2 linked regions of the Homo sapiens genome follow. The protein of the gene in region 2 purifies or fractionates together with the protein of the main gene of each other region. This does not show direct contact. Each region holds a gene or a part of one and is shown on either strand. Other genes may lie near its edges.

Region 1 (3,500 bases), on a different chromosome or scaffold from region 2:
CTGCACTCCAGCCTGGGCAACAGAGCGAGACTTCGTTTCAAAAAAAAAAAAAGAAATAAAAAGGAATAGTCTGGTTTCCACAGTGACTATTCTGAACTAAAGGCATTTGCCCGGGGGTCAGGAATGCTAAAGAAGAACTCAACAATCCCCTTGAACTCCTGGGCTCAAGATATCCTCCTGCCCTGGCATCTTTGATATGAGTCCCCTGGTATTTTTGATATGAGAAACACTGCCACAGGGAAAAGCTCCTCTAGGCTAAATAGCAAATACATGAAATATGTTTCCTTATATGTGTTGTACAAATAAAAAGGCTACTAGTTCCTGGACCACAAGTAACACTTTATAAAAGGAATAAAACTTTTTCTACAATAAACTGAGTTTTCTTAATACCAAACTTAAGGCCATGTTGCATAAAGGTGACAGTAGTGAGTACTACCTTTTGGAGACAAGAGTGGCAATTTGCTCTGTGGTCTCATATACCACTTTTCTCTAAGAACCTTTTTTCTCCAATTTTAAAATTAAAAGTCTGGACCATTCACTCTTGTCAACAAATATCGAGGTCTACTATGTGTTAAGCCACCATGTCAGTGCCTGGCATACAGCAGTGAGCAGGTCTCTGCCCTCTGGGGCATAAAGTCTAGTGTAAGACAAATAAAGAAGAAATGATACTATACTCCTCTCCATAAACCAACCTTGAGTGGGGACACAAGCACAGGAACTTTAAGACACCCTGCTCCAAAGATAAATGTACTTAAATATTCTAGACACCAAACCTGGCCACTGGTCACAAATAAATTTTCATCACACACAGCTGCCTAACTCAAAGAGGATGACAAAAGGCAGGCATATCTAACAGCCCGATCAAAGTTCTTAAGATTGCCCAGCCCTGGAGATTAAAAAACAGTATATACTCAAACTTTGTAAAATAATAACAGAAACTAGAGCAGTGGTTCTCAGTTACCTTGAGAGCCCGTTAAAACATAGACTGATGGGCAAAAGCAAAAGGGAAGTAGCCCTAGAGATGTTTATTCCTGCACATGATCTTAGCTACAAGGTACTGTTTTATTTATTTTAGGCTGGGCACGGTGGCTCATGCCTGTGATCCCAGCACTTTCGGAGGCCGAGGCAGGTGAATTACCTGAGGTCAGGAGTTCAAGACCAGCCTGACCAATGTGGTGAAACCCTGTTTCTACTAAAAATACAAAAATTAGCCAGGCATGGTGGCACACGCCTGTAGTCCCAGCTACTCGGAAGGTTGAGGCAGGAGAATCACTTGAACCCGGGAAGTGGAGGTTGCAGTAAGCCAAGACTGCACAACTGCACTTCAGCCTGAGAAACAAGAGCGAAACTCCGCCTAAAAAAAAAAAAAGAAAAAAATTTTAACTGCAAGACCAACTAGAAGATAGAACTTTACAAGGGAAAACACCACCAGATAAAACTTAAGAATGGCTGGGTGTGGTGGCTCACACCTGTAATCCCAGCACTTTGGGAGGCTGAGGCGGGCGGATCACGAGGTCAGGAGTTCGAGACCAGTCGGGCCAACATAGGGAAACCCCATCTCTACTAAAAAAAAAAAAAAAAAAAAAAAATTAGCTAGGCGTGGTGGTGTGTGCCTGTAATCCTAGCTACTCGGGAGGCTGAGGCAGAATTGCGTGAACCCGGGAGGCAGAGGTTGCAGTGAGCCGAGATCGCACCACTGCACTCCAGCCTGGGTGACAGAACGAGACTCCGTCGCACAAAAAACAACAACAACAACAAAAAAAAACTTAAGAATCTTAGGTTGTGGGACTTAGTCCTAATGCACAGACCTTTAAGAAATTCAACCTATAGAAAAGCATTTAACTTTAACGTTTTCAGTATATTTATTTTACTCACCGCAAGCATTTTCATTAAAAGTTCCTGTTGCTCTTTTGTTGCTTGATTTTTAGTGCTCTCTTCATATTCATAACCATTTTTAGCTAAATAATCAAGGTGGTTGTGAAATATAACTGAACGCCAAAATTGCTCCTATAAAAGCAAATAAAATTGCTTAAGGCCAACTATCACCTTAATATGAGGCAAGCGTTAAATATTTATCTTAAGATACCAGTTTTTGAATAAAATATGTTCTGAACTCTTCCTTTCTATAAGTTTATTTTACAATTTAAATTCTAGTGTGATACTACAGCTTAACTTTTTCCCCTATCCTTAAAAAAGGCAGCTGGGGAGGAATACAGCATTTAAAACAGTTTCCTAGCTATCATAATTAATGCTCAGAGAATTTGGTAAACAAGATTTTTAAAAGCTAACTTGTTTCTTATTTAGAATAACTAACTGCAAGATTTCAAATGACTTTTGATGACACAAGGCTAGGACTAGGGTCAGGCAAGCCAGGTGTTATGGCACAAAATGTATGGAGGCACTTCTTCTCAGGGACATGCCCCATCCTGAGAGTAAGTCTTTCCCCAGTGGGTCTCTGACAGTCACACCCATTTACTTTGTAGACAAAGTCCCTGGAAGCAGTGATGGCAATCAGGTGGCCTGGTGATCCCAAGCAGTCCTCTTCCCTCCCTGCTACCCCTATTTATGTAATTATACAGTAATGAATATTCAATACTGGCCATCAGGATAATTTTAAAGTGTGTGTATCACAGGTGCTGTATTATCAAATTCAAAGTGTCAAGGTAAGACTTCCACATACCTCCATTTGTCCTTTCTCTGTTGCAATCTGACAGTAAGGAAGCTTAAAGGATAATATAGCAACAGCAGGGCGTGGAAGGGTTGGGGGAAACCGAGAACCTTTACAAGGAATGCACCTGTTAGTAAAGAAAAGTTCCATCATAAAAATTTACTAACATGTCATAAAAACTACAAAATTTAAAAAGTTTTCAAAAGTTAGTAACTTAGAATAGTAATATTATAATAGCTGCCTTAATCATATATAACAAATATCTCTTTTTAAAAAAGTGTTTTAGGCTTGACTAGGCATAAAGACTATCCCTACATGCATTTCAAGAATAGAAAAATTCCTTCTCACATCTCACTTGATTTATTTTTTTTGAGACAGGGTCTCACTGTGTTGCCCAGGCTAAAGCACGGTGGTGTGATCACGGCTCACTGAAGCCCCAACCTCCCAAGTTCAAGCAATCCTCCCACCTCAGCCTCCCAAGTAGCTGGGACTACAGATATATGCCACCATGCCTGGCTAACTTTTGTATTTTCAGTAGCGATGGGGTTTTGCCATGTTGCCCAGGCTGGACTCGAACTCCTGGGCTAAAGTGTGCCTCCCACCTTTGCCTCCCAAAGTGTTGGGATTACAGGCGTGAGCTACCCTGCCCAACCTCACATCTCACTTTATTAAATGACAACCACTAAAAGTGAAATCAGCTCTCTTCATATTTTCCTTAGCAAACTACCACTTTTAAAACATAAAAATTGTACCATTAATACCTGTCATGGAATCCATGTTATCACCAAGATAAATGCTGATGAAGCTGCACATGGAACATACTCTAAGGTCA
Region 2 (3,500 bases):
AGGAATTTCTGTTGGTGTTGTGCATTGCTATATCACCAGCACCAATAACAGTTTCTAGCATATACTAGGCTTACAAAACATATTTGTTGAATGTTTAAAAACGGAATTTTTATGCAGCTGTGAGATCTAAATATGATGTAAAGTATTTTTTAAAATGAAAATAAATAACGCATTTTATTTTTAAATAGTTATAGTTTTACATGTCCTATTAAACTTCTAGAAGTTTAAAAAAAGCAGAGAAAATGTAGGACAAACAGAAAGAACAAAGTAAAAAGGCAGAAACAAGCCCAGATATACATACAGACTATATAAGATAGACCTAGAAACAGAATAAATTAAGCGATTAAAAAACAGGTATTGTCAGACTACATTAAAAAAGCAAAATTTAGATATATGTGGTTTTAAATAAACCCAACTAAAACATGACACTGAAAGGCTGCCAGAATGGAAAAAGATAAATCAAGAAAATGTTAACTAAAACGGAGCCAGGGCAGCATTATTATTATACTGTCAGACAAAACAGACTTGATTAGCATCAGTACAGTAAATTGCTATGCATGTAAAATACATATACATAATCATATACACATAATCATGATCATAGCTAAGGAAGGTCACAAATGATGATAAAAGATTCAATTTACCAGGAATGATTAACAATTCTAAACTTGTACACACTGAATAAAATACCCTCAAAATGAAAAATGCAAAGTTTCCACATTTACTGGGACCTTACCAACTACATTTTTTAGACACCTTGCTGGAAAAGAAGCCAGCAGCAGATAGGCAGTGCCACCTCAGCATAGGCATCAGTTTCATGGGGCTTCTTCTCCAAGCTCCCAGATCCTGGCAATCCCAATCTTTATCCTTTTTGTTCTCTGGATGTAAAGGAGGTATCTGTTTCCTTTGGACTACACCTCAGTATTTTCTTTGTCCTCCAACTCCTGGGTAACCAATTCTCTATATTGAATCCCCTCTCTTCTTATTTAAATACATTTTATTGTGTATATTTAAGGTATACAACATGTTATGGGATACATACCGATAATAAAAAGGTTACTATAGTCAAGTGCAAATCCATCATCTCACATAGCTAACCCATTTTTTTGTAGCAAAAGCAGCTAAAATCTACTCAGCATGAATGCCATATACGGTATTTTATTACCTGTAATCTTCATGTTGTACATCAGATCTCTAGACTTACTCATCTTACATATCTGCTACTTTGTATCCTCCAAACTACATCTTTTGAAATACCTTGTATGGAGTTTTCTAGACAGGACCCTGAATAACACATATCACAATATGAACAAAATGCTCTCAATTAGATCAATTAGACCAAAAAAAGTAGTAAAGATATAAAAGATTTGAACAGTATGTTAGCATGCCTAATTTGATGAAATATATCAAATCTTGTACTCAACAACAGAAAGGAGGTGGGACTATGGGTATTTTTTCCTTAGCTTCAATTTTTGCTTTTTCACATCGTACATGCACTATTTTTATCACAGAGGAGGAAATAGAAGCCATTTTATTCTTTTGATAAGAGTAAACCAAAGGACCTACAATCATTAAAACTGGCAGTGATGAGAAGCTATCTAAACTGAAACAAGCTGTTAGAAGCATGGAGGGCTACCGCTTTAAACAACTTCATCATTGCTCATGTAATAGCTTAATTCTCTCCTATCCGTTAACAACTTTTCCTGATACAATTTATCTTTTCCAGTGGGTACAAAGTTTAAATTATTTTAAAAGGCATGGTGACAAGTTGTCCATAAAGAAATATACACAAAGAAACTTATTTTGATAGCTTTTTCCTCTAAAAATACTTGGAAATCTTTTAGGAGTTATGATCTCCTAAACTATAATCCAATGCTAATTAAGTGTCTTATCCTCAGAGTACACATCTTTAGTATTTGAAGGTTTCAGAACTTTTTACGTGTTGTGTAATTTACTCAAACTTTTTGAAGTAAAAGCTCAGTAGAAAGTAAAAATCAGTTACCTGTAAGAATGAAATAAATCTCCCCATTTGAATTTGGCAATCACCTTCCACCATGCTGGCATCTGTAGCTGTAAAAGGCAACATGAATAAGCATATTTCATTTTTTAAATTTAAACTCAATCAATACCAAAAAAGGGGGAAAAGTTTTTTTTTTTCATTAGGACATCTTTTACTCTGCATAGTATTGAAAACAGAATTTTTACACCAAAGAGAAAAATCAGACAATCATTAATCAAATAATTAGAAGTATTTGCTTCACTATTTAATGAATTCAAGGAAAATTCTCATCTACCTACAGTACTTCGTAAAGTACAAAGATATCACAAATTTGCTGCTGCTTCCTCAGCTTTTTTACCTGTTTACCAAACATACCAACAAAAAATATGAATACTTATTTTTCTCACACTATTATATAATCATAGTAGTCCTAAAATTGTCTGTTAACTTTTTGTTCATTTCAATATCAAAAAGGCATCACAATTTGGAATTTTAAACTTACCTCCTTCTCCATAAAACAAGAGACCATTGTAAAATTTAGTTTCAGCCTGTTTTTAAGAAAAAAATTAAAATAATTTTAAAGGTTGTTTTGTTTCCAAATTCCTATGCTCTCTTAGATCTGTATACTTAGTAATAAACAGAGGGCTACATCATTTGCATACAAATTCATTTAAATTCAAAATCTGTTTATAAAGCAATTCATCTTTAGAGTAACAAAAATATTACTGATACTCAAAGCTGTATCTTGATTCCTTTAGCCTTTACTTCATCTTATCTGACCACCCTCACTGTCCCACATCCTCCCATTAGTTTATGGGAAATAAAGAGCAACCACATGGTATCAAAAAGCAGGAGAAGAAAATACGAAGTTTGTCAACTTCTACCAGACTTTTAATGGTTCTTGGGTAAGGAAACACAAAACTAAATGCATTTTAAGAAAAAAAAATCAGTTTTCTCTAGATAGCCAGTATATATGGCAGGTAACACAAACTCTGGAGGTTTGTAAACCTAGATTCAAACTGTTGACTACCAGTAAGATGTTATGCAAGTGACACTCTCTTTAAGCTTCAGTTTCCTCATCAATGTCTCACCTACCTCCTGGGGTTACTATAAGGATTACAGTGTTAGCCTGGTGTTTTGTACATACTAAGTACTCAATGAATGGTAGTCCGTATTAGTATTACGTTAAATAAATAATTCATTCAACATTCAATAAATATTTATTGCACACTGTACATATATAAACACATACTTGCTTCTAAATGATGTTTTTAAAGTTTTAAGACAAGAATTCAAATAATTACCTCATATTTTAATTTCTTGATTTCACAACAAAGTGCAGCATAAACAGTGATGACTTTGTTTAAGACCTAGTTTCATGAGTAAAAACAAAATAAAAAGTAAATTGTTACAGATAACTAAAACATTTTTAAAACAATTTTTTAGATTTAGGATTCTGTACCTTGTTTTCAGTCTTTATGAGTTCCAAAAGAGAGGACTG

The links. Proteins that work in one complex are often made in the same cells at the same time.
Region 1: the proteins of WASHC4 (region 2) and WDHD1 fractionate together in Homo sapiens (co-fractionation; one large-scale study listed by BioGRID). This does not show direct contact.

The regions. Positions count from the first base shown.
Region 1 is NC_000014.9:54,964,600-54,968,099, forward strand, and holds part of WDHD1 (WD repeat and HMG-box DNA-binding protein 1), read right to left. Parts: intron 2,796-3,500; coding exon 2,681-2,795; intron 2,008-2,680; coding exon 1,876-2,007; intron 1-1,875. UniProt on the Homo sapiens protein: Core replisome component that acts as a replication initiation factor. Binds directly to the CMG complex and functions as a hub to recruit additional proteins to the replication fork.
Region 2 is NC_000012.12:105,114,231-105,117,730, reverse strand, and holds part of WASHC4 (WASH complex subunit 4), read right to left. Parts: coding exon 3,462-3,500; intron 3,370-3,461; coding exon 3,304-3,369; intron 2,548-3,303; coding exon 2,502-2,547; intron 2,071-2,501; coding exon 2,003-2,070; intron 1-2,002. UniProt on the Homo sapiens protein: Acts as a component of the WASH core complex that functions as a nucleation-promoting factor (NPF) at the surface of endosomes, where it recruits and activates the Arp2/3 complex to induce actin polymerization, playing a key role in the fission of tubules that serve as transport intermediates during endosome sorting.